Homo sapiens: one gene and its partners. The protein of the gene in region 1 interacts with the protein of each later gene in a biochemical or structural test. Each region holds a gene or a part of one and is shown in the gene's direction. Other genes may lie near its edges.

Evidence for each region.
Region 2: the proteins of ARHGEF16 (region 1) and CKAP5 form a complex in vitro, tested with the Homo sapiens proteins (one study listed by BioGRID).
Region 3: the proteins of ARHGEF16 (region 1) and TAX1BP3 form a complex in vitro, tested with the Homo sapiens proteins (2 studies listed by BioGRID and IntAct, with this or other methods).

Annotation. Positions count from the first base shown.
Region 1 is NC_000001.11:3,478,002-3,482,556, forward strand, and holds the end of ARHGEF16 (rho guanine nucleotide exchange factor 16), read left to right. Parts: coding exon 1-25; intron 26-422; coding exon 423-611; intron 612-1,515; coding exon 1,516-1,589; intron 1,590-1,810; coding exon 1,811-1,912; intron 1,913-2,446; coding exon 2,447-2,586; 3' UTR 2,587-3,112; downstream 3,113-4,555. UniProt on the Homo sapiens protein: Guanyl-nucleotide exchange factor of the RHOG GTPase stimulating the exchange of RHOG-associated GDP for GTP. May play a role in chemotactic cell migration by mediating the activation of RAC1 by EPHA2.
Region 2 is NC_000011.10:46,842,587-46,852,160, reverse strand, and holds the start of CKAP5 (cytoskeleton-associated protein 5), read left to right. Parts: upstream 1-5,880; 5' UTR 5,881-5,941; intron 5,942-9,574. UniProt on the Homo sapiens protein: Binds to the plus end of microtubules and regulates microtubule dynamics and microtubule organization. Acts as a processive microtubule polymerase. Promotes cytoplasmic microtubule nucleation and elongation. Plays a major role in organizing spindle poles.
Region 3 is NC_000017.11:3,664,645-3,673,370, reverse strand, and holds the start of TAX1BP3 (tax1-binding protein 3), read left to right. Parts: upstream 1-4,792; 5' UTR 4,793-4,844; coding exon 4,845-4,883; intron 4,884-8,572; coding exon 8,573-8,692; intron 8,693-8,726. Other genes in the region: EMC6 (ER membrane protein complex subunit 6), read right to left, coding at 3,892-4,224. UniProt on the Homo sapiens protein: May regulate a number of protein-protein interactions by competing for PDZ domain binding sites. Binds CTNNB1 and may thereby act as an inhibitor of the Wnt signaling pathway. Competes with LIN7A for KCNJ4 binding, and thereby promotes KCNJ4 internalization.

The DNA of each region.
Region 1 (4,555 bases):
TCCTGGTTGTGACCAAGAAGAAGAGGTGGCCTTAGGGCAGGAGGGTGTGGGGAGCCCCACTCCATGGACACTGGACCGCTGGCCCTGGGGCAGGAGGGTACAGGGAGTTGGCCCTGAGCCCCTCTGACCTCAGAGCCGAGGCGCGGCTTCCACTCGGCACATGCTCTACGTGACACTCGGGGGCAGGTGGCGCTCGCTGTGCAGCCTCTGACCTCCTCTGCAGACCTGGGTCTGCCGGTGATAGCCACGAGGAGGACTCGAAAGCCATGGCCTCTGTTCTGTGGGACGCGGGAACTCTTGGAGCCCGTCCGTGGCTGCCTCCCCACCACTGCAGGGGAGCCGGGTGGGACCTGGACGGGAGCCCAGCAGCACTGGGTAGGAGCTGGGTGGGACCGTCCCACCGACTGCCCGTGTCTCCACAGCGAGGAGAGCTACATGGTCCAGGACTACGCCCAGATGAACCACATCCAGGTGGAGAAGATAGAGCCGTCTGAGCTCCCTCTGCCCGGGGGCGGCAACCGTAGCTCCTCCGTGCCCCACCCCTTCCAGGTGACCCTGCTTCGCAACAGCGAGGGCCGCCAGGAGCAGCTCCTGCTCTCCTCGGACTCCGCGTAAGTGGGCTCCCGGGAGGGCTGTTCCCAGGCCACAGGCACATTAGCTCCATGGGGACCGGGTTGTCCCCCTGCCTTGCTCGCTGTTGCATGGCTGGCTCTGAACGCCCACCGTGCACCTGGCCCTGCTGTAGGTGCTGAGGTAGAGCCAGAAACAACAGAAATGGCCTTGTCCTCATGGAGTTTATGTTCCCGGGAGGGGACGCACCAACAGTTGGGCCACCAGGAGTGGGAACAAGGGAGGAAACGAGGTGGGGGGTGGGGTGCGGGGGGTGCCGTGAGGAAAGCTTAGCCCATGTGAGCAGAGGGAGGTGGGGCCGGAGTGTGGGGTTGCTCAGCAGAGGCCCCGAGGCAGGAGAGCCCTGAGGCCCCGAGGGCACAGCTGCAGGTGGACAGCAGTGATGCTGGGGTGCAGCGACCCTGGCCGGTAGGGGCCAGTTCAGACAGCAGGGTGGTCCTGGCACTCAGAATGGGAGGGGGCACTGATGGAGTCTCTGCGGGCCCCCCGTGGAAGCCAGGCACACAGGTGCGCCAGTCTCCATATTCCCTCTCAGCTCGTCTTGACTGAGGACAGCTCTGGGCCGTTTCCAGATGAGGATGCTGAGGCTGAGTCTGTCACAGCAAACGGAGGGGGCAGGGAGCTGGGGCCCAGTGCCAGGAAACGGGGTGGCCTCAGGTCCAGCAGGCTGGGGTCTGGGTGTGTGGCCACTACCCAACTCTGTGACCTGGGGCTGGGGTGACTTGGGGGTTAGCCTGCCTGGCACAGTCTGCCCAGCCACTCCTGCCCACCCCCACCACCCCCATCTCCTTGCCACGGCCCCCATGGGTGGCTGTCAGAAGTCAAGGAACATCAGACGGGCAGGATCGGTCTCCAGGCCTGGCTCATGCTGTCTCTGGTCCCCAGGAGTGACCGGGCACGGTGGATCGTGGCGCTCACACACAGTGAGAGACAGTGGCAGGGCCTCTCCAGCAAAGGAGGTGAGTGCGGGCTGGGGCCTGCAGGGCTGGCCCTCTGCCGTGGCTGGCACTTTGGCCCCCACTGTAGCCCAAGTGAGCCTGGCACCTGGCCTTGTGCTGGGGCCTGGCAGTCGGGGGATGGGGTGCCCCGGCCCCGGGGGATGTGTCTGCTGGAGGCCGTTGGGGAGTGGAGCCTGGCCCATGCCTCCCGACAGCCCTGTGATGGCCACTGCCCTATGCAGACCTGCCCCAGGTGGAGATCACCAAGGCCTTCTTCGCGAAGCAAGCAGACGAGGTCACACTGCAGCAGGCGGACGTGGTCCTGGTTCTGCAGCAGGAGGATGGTGAGTGCAGGGGCGTTGGGCACAGATGGGTGGGAACGGACAGGCGGGCGTGAGTCAGCGTCCAGCCTGGCCAGGTCCAGAGCATGCCGGGCTGCAGGCTGACCATGTGCTCACCCTCTCTCGAGGGCTTCCTCAAAGGGAGCACTCCCACATCCCCAAACCTCAGAATCAAAAGCAGGTTCATGGTCACTGTGTCCCACGTGGGGAGGAGGAGGTGTCTCTGCCCTCCCAGGGGATCCCCGCTCAGCCAGGCCCAGCACGAGCCTGCAGAGGGCAGGCAGGGCTCCTCCTCATGCCGGGCAGCGCTGTGTGGGGTGTGCTCAGCCCAGCACCCTTCTCAGTGGCGAGCACCTGAGCAGGGGCTGGGTGCCCGGTGACCATGAGCAAGGCCTCAGCAGCTGTCTGCTCTGAGCAGGAGCAGGTGGTCAGTTCTAGGAGAAGCCTGGCCCTGGTGTGCTCAGGCATAGCAGCTCAGAGGGGCCGGGGGACCCACGGCCTTCCCCTCACCTCCCTCCCACCCCTATCCGGGTTCAGGGTGGCTCTATGGCGAGAGGCTCCGGGACGGAGAGACGGGATGGTTCCCCGAGGACTTTGCCCGCTTCATCACCAGCCGTGTGGCCGTGGAGGGCAATGTCCGCAGGATGGAGCGTCTGCGGGTGGAGACGGACGTGTAGCCCTGGCGAGGCCAGCCGGCGGCAGCACAGCCTGTCTCCAATCAGCAAGTGGTCGTGCCTGGCTCTAGAGAGCGTGGGGAGCTGGTCTCAAGGACCCAGCATGGTTCCCTGGGGCTTCCCAAGAGCCTGTGGCTGTGGTGCCGGGCTCCAGACACTTCACGGAAGGAAGATCACATGTCCCCAGAGAGGCACCCCCAGGCAAGCTCGAGGGGGCCACACCGTGTCCCAGGGAGCCCAGCCTATTCCCGTTGGCTGGCTGGGCCCCTCAGCTGCTGGGCCCCACCTCCCCACTGCACCCAGGGGGCAACTCCACCTGGACTGATGGGCACAGGAGGCACCAATAGCGATTATTGGGGGCAATGCGAGGTCTCCTCCTATGCCCTTCCTACCCCTGAGTGGGACAAGAAGGGCCCTGAGTGCCCAGGAGTGCCCCACGTTCTGAGAAGGGGCCGGCCGGAGGGAGGGGACCCGGCAGGGAGATTTCGGTTTTGAGGTTTCTAAATACATTAAAGTTATTTCTTAAGAACCTGGATTTTCACAGTGACTCTGAGCCCAGGCAAAGACCGTGGCCACACATTTTCCAGGGACATACTCAGGATGCCGCGGGCCGGCACCAGGCCCCCTGTGCATGGCCCCCTTGTGTTGGGTGCCGTGTCATGTGTGGTCGCCCCAAGCTCGCCCCTGGTGTGGCCAGTCTGCCCACCGGCTGGAGCACTGGAGCAGGGCCAGCGGCCCCTGATCGTGTACTGAGAAGCCAGGGGCGGCACAGCTGCGCCTTGCAGGGCCCAGGCTGGCCAGTGGTTTAGAGGACTCCGGGATTCAGTAGAGCTTTTGGGGATCCCTCTGCAGTGTCCCCAGGGTTGGAGACAGGCCCCACCTCCCTCCCAGTTTTTCCTCCCAGCCATCTCGTCCTGGGAGCTGCAGGCAGAAGAGGCAGTCCCTGAGCCAGTCGGCTGACCTGGGGTGGCACAGCAAGAGGAGGACTGGTCCTCTCTGTCCCAGGAAGCCCCCACCAGCCCTCCTGTGTCCGACGCCAATGCCCGTTGCCTTTGTGGGCTTGGGTAATGCTGTCCTCAGGGAGGGAGCACCCAGCATACACCTGAGAATCTGCCCTGATCCTCCTGGGTCTGGGGCCCTGGCTTCTGCAGGAAAGTCAGGGGTGCATCTACCCCATATGCCAACCAGAAATGGTGATAGGAGACTGCCCTCCACCCCTCCCAGGCTTGGGGCAGCTGCAGGACCTGGTGCATGAGAGGTGGGGTGGGCTGAAAGAACACGCTGCTCCCAGCCCCCGCCTGCTGGACCAGGGCTTAGGGGAGGAGGCGAGGTCTGGAGGGCCGTGCAGTGCGAGGAGGGCCAGCTCCTCTCCCGGTCACCTCCATGGCCTTGGGCAGCAGCAATGGCCCAGTCCAGGCTCGGAGCCCACGCAGGACTGTCCTGGGCAGGGCTTTGGTCAGCGGCCGCCTCGCAGGGCGGGGCACAGCCAGGGCTCTGGGAAAGAGGAGGCACCTGGGAGCAGAATCCCCTGAGATGGGGCCAGCTCCTCCACGCCCAGCGTGGCATCTCCAGCCTCCGCTGTCCTGCCTGTGAACTGGTTACTCCCTGGGCTTTTCCTGGAGCTCCTGTGGGAGCAAACTGGCAGCCAGGGCAGGGCATGTGTGTTGGCAGGTGGTGTGTGCATGTGTGCTAGCATGCCTGTCTCTGTGTGTGCGTGTGTGTTGGGGGGCGGGGGGGCGGGTAGCCAGGGGGCAGCAGTTTCGTGTAAACCCAGCTGCCCTGCAGCCTCCGGGCGGTTCTCACTGCCAAGTTCATGCTCAGCTCACGGAGCAAGGCGGATCTGGAAAGCCTGGCCTCTGACTCTGTGACCTCACTCTCACGTATGTGACCTGGGGCAGGTGACTCAGCCTCTGCGCCTCAGTTCCGTCTGCAAGTGGCTACAGCAGCCTCTGCGTTTTAGCGGGCAGTGAGA
Region 2 (9,574 bases), on another chromosome or scaffold:
TGTAATCCCAACTACTCAGGAGGCTGAGGCAGGAGAACCTGGGAGGCACAGGTTGCAGTGAGCTGAGATTGTGCCATTGTACTCCGGCCTGGGCAACAGAGTAAGACTCTGTCTCTAAATAAATAAATAAATAAATAAATAGTGGGCAAAGGACATGAACAAACACTTTCAAAAGAGATACAAGTGACCAATAAACATATGAAGAAATGCTCATCATCACTAATCATCAGAGAAATGCAAATCAAAACCATGAGATACCACCTTATACGAGTCAGAGTGGCTTTTGTTAAAAGGTAAAAATTTAATAGATGCTAGCAAGGCTGCAGAGGAAAGGGGACACTTGTACACTGTGGTGGGAATGTAAATTAATTCAGCCACTGTGGAAAGCAGTTTGGAGATTTTTCAAAGAACTAAAAGTTGAACTACCATTCGACCCAGTAATCCTATTACTGGGTATATACTCAAAGGATAAAAAATCATTCTACCAAAAGGACACATGTACCCATATATTCATTGCAGCACTATTCACAATAGCAAAAACATGGAATCAACCCTTGTGCCCATCAATGGTGGATTAAAGAAATGTGGTACATATATCATGTAAAACTATGCAGCCATAAAAAAAGAATGAAATAATGTCCTTAGCAGCAGCCTGGATGCAGCTGGAGGCCATTATCCGAAACAAACTAATGCTGAAACAGATAACCAAAGGTTGCACGTTCTCACTTAGAAACAGGGGCTAAACATTGGGTACACAAGGACATAAAGAAGGGAACGATAGACACTTGGGACTACTAGAGATGGGAGAGTGGGAGATGAGCAAGTGTGGGAGTTCAGTCAGGCTGGTGGGAAAATTTTAAGATGAAGTTATAAAATATAGACACAAATCTTCTTGGAAGGCCGGAAGGTTTTGCAAAAGTCTCAGGATAGGGTTATGGCTGAAAGCCGCCTAATCCTTACTTTGAGTAAATAGCTTAAAGTAGATACAAAGGAATGTAGAGTAGTTTATCTGAATAGCTTGTTTACTCATGTGGTCTTAAGACCAATCTTTGATCAACCGGGTGCACAACCGCAGGGGGTGGGGGCGGGGTTGTTGGCAACCAGGTCAATTACCCTCTAGCAGTGTTTACTCAAAACCTTTGTCATTTAATCTATACTGAATAAATGCAAGCTTCGCTGGCTGATGGGGCCGGCTGCTACTCTTTACAGCACCTTCCTTGGTGTCTGTGAGGGGCCCAGACCCTTAGCTGGAGTGACAGGCAGAATATCTGTGTTAGTGTACGTTATTCAACCGTTGTTGGGTCAAGGTCTGTGGGACAGACCCCGGCAAGCAGGGACTGATAAACTACTTACTGTTAGGTACTATGCTCACTACCTAGGTTCAATCATACCCCAAACCTCAGCATCACACAATATACCTTTATCACAAATCTGCACATGTATCCTCGATTCTAAAATAGAAGTTGAAAAATAAAATAAAATTACGGTCTTTCCAACCCCACTTCCCTATCCCTTTACCTAGTTTTATTCTTTTTCTTTTCCCACTGGACATATTGTCTAATAACATACTATATAATTTATTTATGTGTTGATTGTCTACGTTTCCTCACTATAGTGTGAGCACCACAAAGGGAGGAAATTTTGGGGAGTCTATTTTATCTACTGATCATTGCAGTGCCTAGAAGAGTCCCTCCACATAATAGGTGCTGATAAATATTTGTTGAATGAATAAATGAGTAGCATCAGACATCTAATACTCACCTTAAAGTAGGGCTGCACCTAAGTCATCCAAGACAAAAAGGGATTTTGTCATCTTGTTCTAAAACTCTCCAGGACCCGGACTGCACAAACATCCTTTGTTAAGCCAATTCCTGATTACCATCACACCCTCTCCTTAAATGTAATCTTCAGTTTATTTCTGGTAATATTTAAATAAAGTAAATATGCCAATGACCAATGACTGAAGAAAACTATTTCTGTATATCCTCACCAATTTATCCAAGGTTACCATGACCATATTGCTTTCATTCCTTTCTTCTTCTCCTACATGTGGATCTGTCTTCATTGGCCATCCTTTCACTCTCTCCAATCCCCCAATCTGCAGTCTCATTCACTCTATCAATGTGATTCCCAAATCTATATCATTGATTCTGCATCTATTCTTCCAGCTTCCATCGTGTATTTTCTAGGCCTACTCAGATGATTCCATTAGAATGCCTTATTGGTACCTAAAAGTGAACAGGTTGCAATTTAAATGCCTCACCTTCCCCTTGAGACTGGCTTCTCCTGACTTCCTACTTCCATTGGGCAATCAAATCCTGGAATTCTCTTTGACTCACCTCCCTAAATGGGACCCACCCTTGCCTTTGCACCTAATCTAGTCAGTTGCCAAATCTTTCATTCTTTCTTGAATCTGCTCTCATCCTCTCCACTGCTAACACCTCATATCATACTCCTAGCTGGGTTCCCAACTCTAAACCATTTTAGACAATCAAGCTAATTAATTTTCCTAAAGTACAACTCTGATTTTGCCACCCTCTTGCTCAGGTACCTTTAATAGCCCCCCCATTATCTACTTAATAAAGTACCAATTCCATACCCTGGGATTCAAGATCCTTTAGGAATCATTCCTGGCCGGGCACAGTGGCTCACATGTGTAATCCCAGCATTTTGGGAGGCTGAGGCGGGCGGATGGCCTGAGCTCAGGAGTTTGCGACCAGCCTGGGCAACAAGGTGAAACCCCATCTCTGCTAAAATACAAAAAAATCAGCCAGGTATGGCGGCTTGTGCCTGTAGTCCCAACTACTTGGGAGGCTGAGGCAGGAGAATTGCTTGAACCCAGGAGGTGGAGGTGGCAGTGAGCTGAGATCACGCCACTGCACTCCAGCCTGGGCGACAGGTGAGACTCCGTCTCAAAAAAAAAAGAAAAAGAATTGTTCTTAACCTTCTGTGTCAATCTTGTGTTCCACTACTTCCCAACAAAATTTCAGTCCTAAAATCAACCCCACATGTTCAGTCCCATACATACGATGCACTTTGCTGTTTCTGCGCCCTGACTCACACTTTCCCCACTACTCTCTGCTCCTTCTATGAAAGAAAAAAGAAACACACCACGTTAACAGTAAAAATTCATTTCCCTCCCAAGTCCCACTCCTATTAAGTTTCTTATAATTCCAGGAATGTTCTAACCATTTTCAGGCATGCCCTCAAACACACATACGTTTATAACCATATATAATAAAATCATTCCACAAGTTCTGCAACTTGCCTTTTTTTCAATTAATAAAATTTGTGCATGTTTCTGTTCCAGCACATAGATTAACCGCATTCTTTTTAACAGTTTCATAGTGTTCTATTGAATGGATATGTCATAATTTATGTAAAAGGTTCCCTGTTGATGAACATGTAATTTCCAGATTTTTTATTTTTTTTAGAGACAGCGTCTCACTCTGTCACGCAGGCTGGAGTACAGTGGCGTGATCATAGCTCACTGCAGCCTTGACCTCCCACACTCCAGCAATCCTCCACCTCAGCCTCCCAAAGCACTGGGATTACAGGCATGAGCCACCATGCCTGGCCTCCAGATTTATTTTTTTATTTTATTTTATTTTTATCTTAAGCAGTGCTGGCTGGGCACAGTGGCTCACAGCTATAATCCCAACAGTTTGGGAGGCCGAGGCGGGTGGATCACTTGAGGTCAGGAGTTCAAGACCAGCCTGGCCAACAGGTGAAACCCCGTCTCTACCAAAAATACAAAAAATTAGCTGGGCTTGGTGGCACATGCCTGTAATCCCAGCCACTTGGGAGGCTGAGATAGGAGAATCGCTTGATCCTGGGAGGTGGAGGTTGCAGTGAGCTGAGATGGTGCCATCGCACTCCAGCCTGGGCGAGAGAGCGAGACTTCATCTCAAAAGAAAAAAAAAGAAAAAAAAAAAAGGGCCGGGCACAGTGGCTCACGCCTGTAATCTCGGCACTTTGGGAGGCTGAGGCAGGTGGATGACCTGAAGTCAGGAGTTTGAAACCAGCTTGACCAACATGGTGAAACCCCATCTCTGTTAAAAATACAATAAAAAATAATTAGCCGGGCGTGGTGGCAGGTGCCTGTAATCCCAGCTACTTGGGAGCCTGAGGCAGGAGAATTGCTTGAACCCGGGAGATGGAGGTTGCAGTGAGCCAAGATCACGCCATTGCACTACAGCCCGGGTGACATGAGAGAGACTCTGTCAGAAAAAAAAAAAAAAAAAGCCGGGTGCAGTGGCTCACGCCTGTAATCCCAGCACTTTGGGAGGCCCAGGCGGGAGGATCACGAGGTCAGCAGATCAAGACCAGCCTGGCTAACACAGTGCAACTCCGTCTCTACTAAAACTACAAAAAATTAGCCAGGTGTGATGGCACGTGCCTGTAGTCCCAGCTACTCAGGAGGCTGAGGCAGGAGAATCGCTTGAACACGGGAGGCGGAGGTTGCAGTGAGCTGAGATTGCGCCACTGCACTCCAGCCTGGGCGACAGAGCGAGACTGTCTCAAAAAAAAAAAAAAAAAAAGCAGTATTGCAGTAAACATCCTTGTACATTTTTCTTTGCATACTTGCACAGATCTGTACGATAAATTCCTCATAGTGGATTACTGGGCCAGAACTAGATTATGTACATTTTAGTAACTGTCAAATTGTCCTCCTAAAGGTTTGTACCAATTATACTCTTACCAATATTGACTTTGAGTGTCCATTTTTCCAAATCTCTTTATATTTTTAAAAACAGAGATGGGGTCTTGATAGCAAGACCCAGGTTGGTCTTGAACTCCTGGCCTCAAGCAATCCTCCTGCCTCGGCCTCCCAAAGCGCTAGGATTACAGGCATAAGCCATTGCACCCAGCCTGTTTTTCCAAATCTTGACCAACCAAAGGCTGTTGAACTTTTTCATCTCTGCCAACTTGACAATGAAAAAACATGTAATTGTTTCATTTACTTTTATCCATCCTCTCTCCATCTTTTAGCCTGTTGGGAATCTACACATTCTTTAAATCCTAGGTTAAAAATTCATCTTCCTCACAGATCCTCCCCCATCAAATTTCTCCTGTCTCTAAGCATTTATAGCTTTTCATTTATACAGTTATTACACTGCTTTGAATTTTAGTGACTAGTCTGTATGTTATATTCCTCCAACCACTGTAGATTACAAATTCCTTGGAAGTAAGGACCTGAACTCATTCACAGAAACACTGAATGTAGAGCTAAGCTAAAATTCTGGAGATCATGTTAACCAAGCCTCTCGTTTTTATAAGGGAATATTAAGCATTTGCAGGATGCGTTACAGTTCACAAAGGCTTTTCTCAGACATTCTATTAGTTATATTAACTCCTCCATTAAATTGTAAGGGAAACATCGTTATCCCATTTTACAGATAAGGAAACAACTCCAGAAGATTTACTGAGAAAAGTGATTTACTCAGAACAGTTCCAAGGTCAGAATCCAGCATCCTGGCTTCATTCGCTGTTACTTCCACGACATCTCAGCTGCCTCTGGTTTCCCTCACAGCACTTAGCTTCACAATCTCTAGGGAATGAAATGACCAAAAAAAATTGTCGGGTGTTGACAGCAGCCTGAACATCTGTAATTAAATAAAGCAAACATGCTGACGACCAAGGATGCCCGGGTCTACACACATTCTTTCGCCTTTCTTTCTGGAGTCGGCAGACTTGCCCCCGGCAGCGACCAGCGTCCCCACCCGTGCAGGCGGCGTCTGGTCCAGAGGGAAACACGGCTGCGCGCGGCCCCTTTAAGGCTGCGGGCGGCGCGTGCCCACAGGCCTTTCAAATGGACCAATAAAAGTCCGATGGGCGGTCCGTCGAGGACCAATAAAGAACGAGGACACTGCGGGGTGTGCGGCGGCCCAAGCGGTTTCAAACGGCTTAGAGCAGGCCGCTTGGTTCTGACCCAGCTGAGGTGAGTGGTCGGTGGGCCTGCCCCACCCGCGAGGCCCTCGAGTGCAGGCATCGCGCGCGCAGAGGAGCCCCTGAATCCTGGGCGGCTGGAGGTCTCCAGACGCGCGCCCCACTTGCCCCACGAACCCGGCAGGTCTGAGGCGGCGAAGCGAGCCGGAGGCCGGGGGACCTGCGGCGGGCAGGGCCGGGGGCGTGGGCGCTCGTGTGCGGCGGAGGCCGGGGTTGGGCTCCAGGTGGCCAGAGCGCGCCGCAGCGTGGCGCGGGTGGCAGCGTCCGCGGGGCGCGGGCGGTGCAGGGCCGCGCCTGGCGGCAGCGATTTACCAAGACTAGGGCGGGGGCCCCGAGAGCCGGCCCTGCTAGAGTGCCTCTCGCGTAATTGTCAAGTGAATGAATAAGTAAGCGCCTACGAGGGCTGTGGTGGTTGCGAAGGGCCTTGTCGCCCTGGAGCAAGGACAGCGGCACCGGGGCCTGGCCGCACACCTGTGTCCCTGCTGGCTTGCTGCGATGTGAACGATTCCGATCATCCACCACCCCGCCCTTAACGACTGGCTTTCTCTCTCTCAACGTGTCGGGAGCGTTCTGGTGTCCTTCCAGCCCTGGAGGTGTTGGGGAACCAATACAATAGCCAGCAGTGTGGGTTGGGCCTTGCTACTTTAAGGTCGGGCTCGGTGAACTAGATTCTTACTTTTGAGCTCTCCCCTCTACTTGTAATCGTGGTAATTGTTGAGCAGGATTGAAATGCATTCCGTTGTGTTTCTTGGATAGAAAATGATGAAAGGGTTGTTGCCAGAGTGGCTAGTGTGTGTTAGAAAATATATTCGTGTTGATGAATCTTAACAATGAGTTTTTTATTCAGCATCAATAGAGGTTGAAGTGGTTTTTGCAGAACTTGCCCCAAATTTATGCGTGGCTCTAATTTAATTCTCATGGGACCAAGGCATCAAATCTTGGCCCAGAAATGCTGCCTGTCTTATGCATAATTATAGTAATTGAAAACTCATTTTTAGAAAGGTGAGCTCCTCCTTCCTCCATTTTCATCACCCTGAAAAGTCCTTCTTTTGACCTAAAGAGCCAATAAATTAAGCTAAGAATCTTTTGAAACTTTAAGAAATTGTAGAAGACTTTGACTTCTCTGAAGTGACTGGACAAACTGTAATGCTTTTACCAAATTTAATGATATAGATAAAGGTGAAATCAATTTATTTTGCAACCATAAGTTAAATCTAGTTGGTAAACTCATGTAAAAAAATTTTTAAATAAGATTTTAGGCTGGGCGCGGTGGCTGACGCCTGTAATCCCAACACTTTGGGAGGCCGAGGCGGGCGGATCACGAGGTCAGGAGTTTGAGACCAGTCGGGCCAACATGGTGAAACCCCGTCTCTCTCTCTCTCTCTCTACTAAAAATACAAAAAATGGCTGGGCGTGATGGCGGGCGCCTGTAATCCTAGCTACTCGGGAGGCCGAGGCAAGAGAATCATTTGAACCCGGGAGACAGAGGTTGCAGTGAGCCAAGATCCCGCCATTGCACTCTAGCCTGGGTGACAGAGCGACCCTCTGTCTCAAAAAAAAGAAAAAAAATTTTTTAAAAGGCTGTTCACTGAGGCAATGGCAAGCAAAGGTATTCCGTAACAATTAACATGCCTTTTACTTTATTCTCCATTACTTTAAAGTCTTGATCAGTTTTGAATTATGTTTGAATTATGAACAGTGGGTGTGGTAATTCCATCGCAGTCTTCTACTACTGACAGTTCAGTTTTAGCAGCACCTGTTTTTTTGGTGTTTTTTGTTTGTTTGTTTGTTTGTTTTTTACCTTCACGGTTTATTGTAAAGGATGCTACAAAGCATACAGATGAAGAGAGGCGTAGGGCTTGTAGGTATGGGAGAAGGGTGTGGAGCTCTTATGCTCTCATATGAAGTGTGTTTGAATATACCAACTCTCCTGTAAACTTTTATCTTAATTCCATCAACACTCACTTTCTTTTCCTTTTTTTTTTTTTTTAAGACAGAGTCTTGCTCTTTCGCCCAGGCTAGAGTGCAGTGGTGCGATCTCAGCTGACTGCAACCTCTGCCTCCTGGGTTCAAGCGATTCTGCCACCTCAGCCTCCCAAGTAGCTGGGACTTCTTGTGTGCACCACAATGCCCAGCTAATTTTTTGTATTTTTAGTAGAGACAGGGTTTCACTATGTTGGCCAGGCTGGTCTCGAACTCCTGACCTCAAATGATCCACCCGCCTCAGCTTCCCAAAGTGTTGGGATTACAGGTGTGAGCCACCACACCTGGCTAACCCTCACTTTTCTAACTGTAGCTTCTATTAGGACTTTATCAACAGGTTTTGTTTTTGCAATACTAGGTAGGGGAAGTGTTCCCCAGCCAGACATAATATCCATTCCTAATAAAACACATTTACATATAGGAGACACAGCTTCCAACTTTCATAGTTCTGTCAACACTTACATCTTTGTGTTCTCTCAATTTTTTTTTTTTTTTTTTTTCAATCAGATCTCACTCTTTCGCCCTGGCTGGAGTGCAGTGCTGCTATTATGGGTCACTGCAGCCTCCACCTCCAGGGCTCAGGTGATCCTCCCATCTCAGCCTTCCGGTAGCTGGGACTACAGACGTGCATCACCATGCCTGGCAAATTTTTTTAGTTTTTGTAGCGATGGGGTTTTGCCTTGTTGCCCAGGCTGGTCTCGAACTCCTGGGCTCAAGGGATCCTTTTGTCTCGGCCTCCCAAAATGCTGGGATTACAGGCGTGAACCACTACGCCTGGCCTTCTCTTAATCTAACTGTAGCCCTGTTCGGGGCTTCACCAATGGCTCTTGGTACTACTGTACCTGGGGCTTCCATATGAAGGAGTCCCAGGAATTTCTTTTTGCCACTCCCTGACCATTTTACCTACTTATATACAGAAGGCTTGGGGTCCCCAGCAGGTGGTTGAGCCAAGAGACCCTTGCCCATTTGCCAGTCTTTATCTTGACTCATCTACCTATTGTTTCCACAATTTCAGATCAGATTTCTCATTGTAATCTGCCTCCTGACTTACAATTTCTCCAAACTGGGGTAAATATAGCAAACTTGTTTGGAACCCCTTAATGGTGGGAGACCAGCAGGGTCTCCCTTTGGCTCCCAGGCTAGTCTTGAACTCCTGGGCTCAAGTGATCATCCTGTCTTGGCCTCCCAAAGTGCTGGGATTATAGGCATGAGCCACCACACCCTGCTACCTTACTTCTTTTTTTTTTTTTTTTTTTTTTTTTGAGACGGAGTCTTGCTCTGTCACCCAGGCTGGAGTGCGGTGGCGCGATCTCGGCTCACTGCAAGCTCCGCCTCCCAGGTTCACGCCATTCTCCTGCCTCAGCCTCCCAAGTAGCTGGGACTACAGGCGCCCGCTACCAAGCCCGGCTAATTTTCTGTATTTTCAGTAGAGATGGGGTTTCACCTTGTTAGCCAGGATGGTCTCGATCTCCTGACCTCGTGATCCGCCCGCCTCGGCCTCCCAAAGTGCTGGGATTACAGGCGTGAGCCACCGCGCCCGGCCTACCTTACTTCTTAATAACCATTTAAAAATTTCCACCTTCCGGGTTGAATCCATTTGCCCTCTGTCTCACCATTCTCTTAACCTAATGGTTTTATTAGC
Region 3 (8,726 bases), on another chromosome or scaffold:
ACCTTCCTGCCAGCTGTTTGCCCTTAGGCCAGTACACAGAATTAAAGTGGGGGAGATGGCAGACGCTTTCTGGGACCTGCCCAAGATATGTATTCTCTGACACTCTTATTTGGTCATAAAACAATAAATGGTGTCAATTTCAAACGTGTCCTGATTTTTTTCTCTTCATGTTTACCCATCTTTTTTTTTGAGATGGAGTCTCGCTCTGTAGCCCAGGCTGGAGTGCAGTGGCACGACCTCGGCTCATTGCAGCTTCTGCCTCCCAGGCTCAAGTGATTCTTCTGCCTCAGCCTCCTGAGTAGCGGGGATTACAGGCGTGCACCACCATGCACGGCTAATTTTTTTTGTATTTTTAGTAGAGACGGGGTTTCACCATGTTGGTCAGGCTGGTCTTGAACTCCTGACCTTGTGATCCGCCCACCTCAGCCTCCCAAAGTACTGGGATTACAGGCAACAGCCACCGCACCTGGCCCATTTTTACCCGTATTTTAAAGGAAAATGTAAGAAGGCAAGATCAAAAGAGGCAGACACAAGAAACAATTAGTAAGCAATATATTCCTCATCTTGCAAAGAAATTCAAATTATGGAAATGCTTTAAATGAGCAACTATTAAAATTATAGACTAGGAAGGAACTGATAAAACTGGTACTTTTCATTCAAGTAGTGTAATCTAACACAACTCTGGAAGTAACTTGGAACCAAATTTTTATCCTCTGCTGTAGGAACTTATTAATTTTCTCAAAACAATATAAACGCAGACATTCATTGCAGTATTTTTTATAGTAGTGAACATTTCAAACTTACTGCCCAACAATAGGGAAATGGTTAAGTACATCAGCTCGCTTATCCCTCTTCCTTTTTTCTCCTCTCCCACCAGGCTGAGGACTCCCTCTGCTTCTCCCTTACACCAGGAATGAACCTTTCCTTCCCACTCAGAGGAGGTTCTGAGAGGACTGAGGTGGGCAAACCACTGAGGATCTTCAGTGGGGGCAGAGAAAGGGCTCACTGAGATGGGGGGCAACGCTATGGCCTCAGCTTCTCCTTGGCGTCGTGTGCATGTGTTCCTGAAGCCGAAACGGAATTTAACAGGTCTGGGTCCCAGATCCATTTCCATGACTGGCCATGGGCTATCTATGATCTGTCAAAAGGGGACTTGGATTCAAGCTCTCAGATCCCCTTCCAATCTAAAACAGATTCTTTTTTTAAAAAAAATCCAAATGTGATTACGTCACTTCAGACTAAAAACTTCCAAAGGCTTCCCCCATTTGCTCTGAGGATCAAGGCCAGGGCAAATGGGAGCTCACTGCAGCCTCAACCTCCTGGGCTCAAGTGATCTTGATCTTCCCATTCCAGCCTCCTGAGTAGCTGGACTACAGGCGCATGTCCCCACACCCATTACTGCCCTCCATGATCTGGTCTGGGTCTACCCTGTGGCCTCTTCTCTCACTCTCTAAATACAGTCACATTCCTTCCTGCCCAATGGCCTGGAAACATGCGCTTTCCTGAAGGTAACTCCTTCCCCACACTTGCCTATGTTATTCAACTTTTGGGTTTCAGATGTAATGTTATTTCCTCAGAGAAGACTTCCTTGACCTCCATATACCCCAACTTGGGCTAGGTCTGCTATGTCCTCTTCATAGTACTCACCATGATTTAAGTATTTCTGAAGTTAGGTGATGCTGGTTTCCCCAGTTAACCATAAATCCAATGAGCACCATCATTTTCATTACTGTAATTTCTTTTTTTTTTAGACAGGGTCTCGCTGTTGCCTAGGTTGGAGTGTAGTGGCAAAATCGTGGCTTACTGTGGCCTCAACCTCCCGGGCCCAGGTGATCCTGATCCTCCCACCTCAGCCTCCTGAGTAGCTGGGACTACAGGCACATGCCACCACATCTGGCTAATTAAATGTTTTTTTGTAGAGATGGGCATCTCACTATGTTGCCCAGGCTGGTCTTGATCTCCTGGGCTCAAGCCTTGGCCTCCCAAAGTGCTGAGATCACAGCAGGAGCCACTACACTCAGGCAATTACCGTCATTCTAATGCAATATTTATTCCTCAATTAAACAAATGCATTTTATTCTTTTTTTTTTGAGAGGGAGTTTCGCTCTTGTTGCCCAGGCCGGAGTGCAATGGCATGATCTCGGCTCACCGCAACCTCTGCCTCCCAGGTTCAAGAGATTCTCCTGCCTCAGCCTTCCTAGTAGCTGGGATTACAGGCCTGTGCCACCACACCCGGCTAATTTTGTATTTTTAGTAGAGATGGGGTTTCTCCATGTTGGTCAGGCTGGTCTCGAACTCCTGACCTCAGGTGATCTGCCCACCTCGGCCTCCCAAAGTGCTGGGATTACAGGCATGAGCCACCGTGCTCGGCCACAAATGCGTTTTATTCTAAAATAACCCTCCTGACAAGAAAGGATCATGGATTAACACATGGAGGTGTTTACACCCTAAACCTGCCCAAAGTTCAACTTCAATGTCCAAACAATTTTTGTGTTTTTTTTGAGATGGAATCTTGCTGTCACCCAGGCTGGAGTGCAGTGGTATGATCTTGGCTCACTGCAACCTCCACCTCCAGGGTTCAAGCGATTCTCCTACCTCAGCCACCCAAGTAGCTGGGATTACAGGTGCCCACCACCACGCCTGGCTAATTTTTGCATCTTATTTTTAGTAGAGATGGGGTTTCGCCATGTTGGCCAGGCTTGTCTCAAACTCCTGACCTCAGGTGATCTGCCTGCCGTCGGACTCCCAAAGTGCTAGGATTACAGGCGTGAGCCACTGTGCCCAGCCTAAATGTCCAAACAATGTTTAATCTTCCCTAGACATATTCTAAAAAATACAGCTTGACTTTATTTTTTCTTATGGAAAGGACTGTCACTAAATGAAATGGAACTAAAATGACACCATATATACCTGAAAGTAGTGGTTAGTGGGAGGGAACGCTGGCCTGTGAAAGGTACACCCAGCAAACATATCAAGAGCAAATTAAGAGACCTGCATTTGAATCCTGGCTCTGTCTCTTCCTAGCTGTATCTCCTCTGGGAGAAGTATTTAACCTCTCTGAGCCTCAGGTTCCTTACGAGGGAGCTAACAATAACATCTACCCTGTAAGGTTATTGCTAAAATTAAATGAGAGGATCGGTGTAGAGTAGAAGTCACAATGCCAGCATATAGGGAACTCTTTTTTTTTTTTTTTTCCCTGAGAGACAGACGGAGTCTTGCTCCATCACCCAGGCTGGAATGCAGTGGCACGATCTCGGCTCGCTGCAACCTCTGCCTCCAGGGTTCAAGCGATTCTCTTTCCTCAGCCTCCCGAGTACCTGGCATTGCAGGCGCGCGCCACCACACCCGGCTAATATTTATATTTTTAGTAGAGACGGAGTTTTGCCATGTTGGCCAGGTTGGTCTTGAACTCCTGACCTCAGGTGATCCGCCCACCTCGGCCTCCCAAAGTGCTGGGATTACAGACATGAGCCACCGTGCCCGGCCCAGGGAGCTCTTAATACATATTAACTGTTACTGCTTCTTAGGATGTTAATAAGTTCTTTCCTTATGTAGGCCCTTAGGGCCCGTTTCTGAATGGCCTATGTGTAAATACAAGGACTTAACACAAGGCTATGGCCCATTCCTTGCTCTCCAGGAGTCAAATCTCGGCGATTTTGCATCAGTGGCAGCCTAAGCGTTACAGCAGGAAAGAACTCCACAAAGTGTCTCACGCTTCATTTAATCTGAAGAATATTACAGGCTCTCCGTCTTCAGATATAAATTATTTATAACGTTACAGAACAAGCAGCGAATTCAACCACTTAAGAACTAAGGAAGTCTACATGGTGTTAATTGCTGGCCACAGTCCTCCCGATCTGGTTTTTTAAAAAAGTCCCCCGGGCCCCCATTTCAGTAGACGTGCACCATGCCGTAGAGGAACGTCCAGAACAGGACGTAGGTGAAGAGGCCCCCGATGAGGCCTCCTGTAAAGAGAGGTCTCCGTGATTTGAAATATTTGTTCCACCTCCTTCCCGCCTTGAGAATGAGGAGCAGGGAGAGCAGGACGGAGGCGAGCAGGTAGAAGATGAAGCCGTAGAGGCCGGTGAGGCCGAGGATGCCGGCCGTGGCCCCCGACAGCGCTGACACCGAGGTCCGGCAATAATCCAGGACGGCGGCGTTGCCCCGCACGGCCGCCTCGCTGATGAACGGCGGCCCTTCCCGCTTGGCCACCACCGCGGCCATCGCACCAGCCCGGGCTCGGCCTCTCGCTTTCTCGCGGAACAACGCGGAGCTGCGGAGAAAACCAAGTTACAAGTGGCGCCCGGAGCTCGGTGAGTTGGGTTCACGCCGCCCCCTCCCCCTGGAGCTTCCGAGACCTGGCACCAGTCCTGGGCCTCGGATCTTCCAAAGACGCCGAGGAGATTGAGGGTCCGGGCCGGCCGGGAGGTGGTGGCGCGTCTGCGTTCCCCGGCCACGGTGGCCCAGTTACCTGGAACACGGCGCCGGACACACTACTTAGCGTTCCCTCAGACGGGCAGTGGAAGAAATGCCCGCGGCGCCATCTTGCTCGGAAGACTGCCGGGAGGTCTCGGGCTGCGCACGCGCCCAGATCCCGCCCCGCCCTCCGCGCCTGCGCCGTGGGCGCCCCGGACACGCTCCGCCCTCTGCCCGCTTTTCTGCGCACGCGCAGGGACTTCCGAAAGCGGAGTGGCGCTCCGGCCAGTGATTGGCTGGAGGTTTGTTAACTATTCATGAGGGGGCGGGCCGAGCGGGGCGGCCTTTGTTAAGCAGCGAGGGCGCGACCGCGGGTACTCTGCTGCCGGCTTCTCGGAGCGGCGCTGGGCGACCAGAGCAGGGTCGAGATGTCCTACATCCCGGGCCAGCCGGTCACCGCCGTGGTGGTGAGTGCGCTTGCGCGGGCTCCTCCTCGTCTTGGCCTGACCCCACCTCGCAGAGCGGGAAACGGACACCCCAAGCAGGTTGACAGAGCATCGAACCCGGGGCTCCTGCGAACCGGCGGCAAGGGCTCGGGTCCCCGCTTTGCCGGAGCGGGCCGCAGTTCCCCCAGCCACGAAACAGGGATGGCCGGGACCCGAGAGCCTCCCGAGACCCTGGACAGAGCCCAGACTGCGTGCGCAGGGCGGGGAGGGCCACGGGGAAAGGCCTGGCTGCAGGAGCCTGGAAAAGCGCCCCCTTCCCGGGCCTCCGTGTCCCCAGACGGGGAGCTGCTGGGGGCGGGCGCCGATCCCGACGTCCATGAGTCGCAGCCTCTGGAATGAGGAAATGCTTCCTCCGCTGCAGCCTGCGCCGCCGCCCGGAGGGAGATCTGGGGGTGGGGCTCTCCCGAGCCTGCCGTGGCAGCCCCTGCCCCCTTCCTGTCCAGCCTTGCTCCTCCAACCCACTCGCCGCCTGGTCCAGGGTGGACGCTCGTATAGCTGCGATGAGCGTTTCCTCTTCGAACTTTTCCTGGGTCTCCAGCCCTTAAGGCAAAAAAGTCCAGGCCTCCCTCCTGGCACTTGAGTCCTGAGTAGACCCTCCGGGGGCTAGCCTAGGCCCCTGGCCGCCCTCTGGCTTGTTTTAGGTGCTGGGTGCTATTAGACTAGGCAGAGGGAGGAAGGAAGGCTGGGACGTTAGACTCAGACGCCGGTGTCACAGAGGGACACAACCCTATGACAGAGGTGGGGAGTCCCAGAGAGAAGTGCTCAGCCAGAAAAGACCACCTCAGGAAAGACTCAGGTCTCCTGCCTACCTCCCGACAGCGTTCAGAGAATGAGAAGAAATGCCTGCCCGGTGGGCAGTAGGTCAAGCGAAAGTCCCCGCCCTGGAGCCATAGGGACTGGGTGTGTTATCTCAGTTGGGTGTGCTGGAGAAGCTCCAGCAATCAGGTGGGTGGAGGCAGAGAAGCCACTGATAAAGGCGACAAGTGAGGCTGAGCTTAGAGCACTGGCTCAGGCCTGGGCCAGGAGGAAACATTGCTGGACCAGCTGACAGCTGTCCTAAGCTTCACCCTCCCTGCACCAGCTTGACTTTTTTTTTTTTTTTTTTTTTGAGACAGTCTTGCTCTGTCGCCCAGGCTGGAGTACAGTGGCGCGATCTCGGTTCATTGCAACCTCCGCCTCCTGGGTTCAAGCGATTCTCCTGCCTCAGCCTCCCGAGTAGCTGGGATTACAGGCATGCACCAGCATGCCCAGCTAATTTTTGTATTTTTAGTAGAACGGGGTTTCACCATGTTGGCCAGGCTTGTCTTGAACTCCTGACCTCTGGTGATCCACCTGCCTCAGCCTCCCAAAGTGCTGGGATTACAGGCGTGAGGCACCACACCCGGCCCAGCCTGGCTTTTTTAGATCCCTACCTGCCCCAGAGAGAAGGCACCAGGTTTGCTCTTTAGGTAGAAGGGGGGCAGGGACAGGTGAGGAGCTACAGCAAGCCACCTTCTGCGTGACCTCACCCAGCAAATCAGTGACAGCCCTGTCTCCCAACCCAAGGGCCTGTAATCTTCTGACCGTGCCGGCAGAGCAGGCCTGGAGGAGCTCAGTTTGGGGCATGAGGACCCAGGCACAGTAGGCCTCATGCTTCCTGCCCCCCTCCCTCACGCCATAACTGGTCCCAGGGCCTTCCCCAAAACTGCAGGCCCATGCCCCCTAATTCTGGTAACACCAGGAACGTGCCTGGACATGGTGTGTATGGTCTGGCCTCTCCCTCGAGTCTTGGATTGGGGATGGGTTTGGGCAGGCTCACTCCCCAGTCCCCACCCTCTCCCATGTAGAATCCTGAGAATATTAAAGACATTTAGGCCATTCTTCTGAACCCTGGCTCCATAGATCCATCTGCCTTCTGGACACCTGCCCCGCAGCTCCTGGCACTCCAACCTAACCTGCTCCTCCTCCTCCTGGGTCCCCATCTGAATAATGTGTGTTCAGCCAGGCACGGTGGCTGGGTGCTCCTCTTGACTCCTCTCCTCCATGAGTGGTCCCTAAGTCTGTAGATCTCCATTTTCAGGTAGCTCCATGTCCCCCGGCCTCTGCACCTTGCTTTTGTGAGATGTCCGTTCCTCTACTGATTACCTGAGTGGTCATTCTAGCAGCAAACCTGACCATGCCCTACCCTACTCCGTTCCTGAGAACTCCAGTGGGTTCAGGATCAAGGTCAGGCTACCCATCACCCCCTCAAAGCCTGGTGCAAATAATCCTCCCTTTGGGAAACTTCTTTAGGTCTAGTCTAGATTGTGGTCTTCTGCTTTTTTCTTTTCTCCTTCCTGTTAAAACTTGACTTTGGGAGTGATCTGGTCTGGCTCCCAGCATCTGCTGACTGGACGGCGCTTGCCAAGGGCTTTGAAAAGAACCTGGCACAGTTGGGGACCATAGCCCCAGAGCATGGTGGGAACACCCCAGAGCATGGTGGGAATGCCCCAGAACACTCGTTTCTGCACAAGAGCAGGGTCTGGGGCTTAGGGAGACACCCCTGCTCCCCTTCCAGGACGGGATCTGGCCCCAGCCTTACACTTTCAGCCTCATCTCGCCTCCCAGTTCTGTGTCCTGCACTGGACACTCCAGTCTCACGAACACGTATCCACGGCACCCTGTGCGCTGGTCCCCGTGGCCGGCAAGCCCTTCCTCTCCTTTCTTTTTTTTTTTTTTTTTTTTTTTGGAGCCCAGAGATCCTTTATTTTTTTTTGTTTAACACCTATTATGCCATGAATTCATAGGGAATAGGTTCCAGCAGCTCAGGCGCCTTCCCGTTGGTTCTCACAAAGTGTGCTTCCCTGGGTGGAGCAGGCTGGTGCTTTAGTTGAACCCAGGTACCTTTCTCTTTGGCTTCTTTCTTTTTCTGATCATTTTCCTTCACGCGTTCCAGGAAGCTATCTCGGCTCTTAGAGTGCTTTATGTGCTCAATACGCACATTAATTCTCTTGGCAAGAATCTTGCCCTTAACTTGTTTGTTTACAACAATGCCAACAGCATGCTGGGGAACATTGTAGACTCTTCCAGTTTTGCCATGGTAACCCTTGTGGGGCATTCCTTTTTGAACAGTACCCATTCCCTTGATGTCTACAGTATCACCTTTCTTATAGATTCGCATATATGTGGCCAAAGGAACATCTCCATGTTTTCTAAAAGGCCTAGAGAACATATATCCGGTGCCTCTCCTCTTTCCCTTTGTGTTCGTCATTTTGGCGAATTACTGGAAGATGGCGGTTCCGGCCGAAAGGAAACCCCTTCCTCTCCTTTCTATGCAAGTTTGATCTCTGCTTTTCCAGAGCACCTCCTGTGAGACGGGCTTCCCACCTACAGAAGCCACAGCACCTGGACTCTTGGGCCAGCAGGGGCTTCCACCACATGTTGACCAAGACTAGTGCCTAAGACTAACAGGGGAAGTGGGGACAGGTTGAGGACACAGGGCTGTGTGGGTGGATCAATGTGGCCAAGTTCTGAGTGCCAGCTCCTCAGCCTCCCAGGCTGGTGAGCAGCTGGATTCCTGCAGGGGCCTGGGACCCAGCCCCTTGTCATGGCTCTGAGGCTGCTGCTGGGAACACCCACCAGCCTAATTCTCCAACCACCCACTTCTCTCAACTGGCTTTTTTCTTTGCCAGCAAAGAGTTGAAATTCACAAGCTGCGTCAAGGTGAGAACTTAATCCTGGGTTTCAGCATTGGAGGTGGAATCGACCAGGATCCTTCCCAGAATCCCTTCTCTGAAGACAAGACGGACAAGGTGAGGGGGTCTGGGGTCCTGGGACCGCTCCATG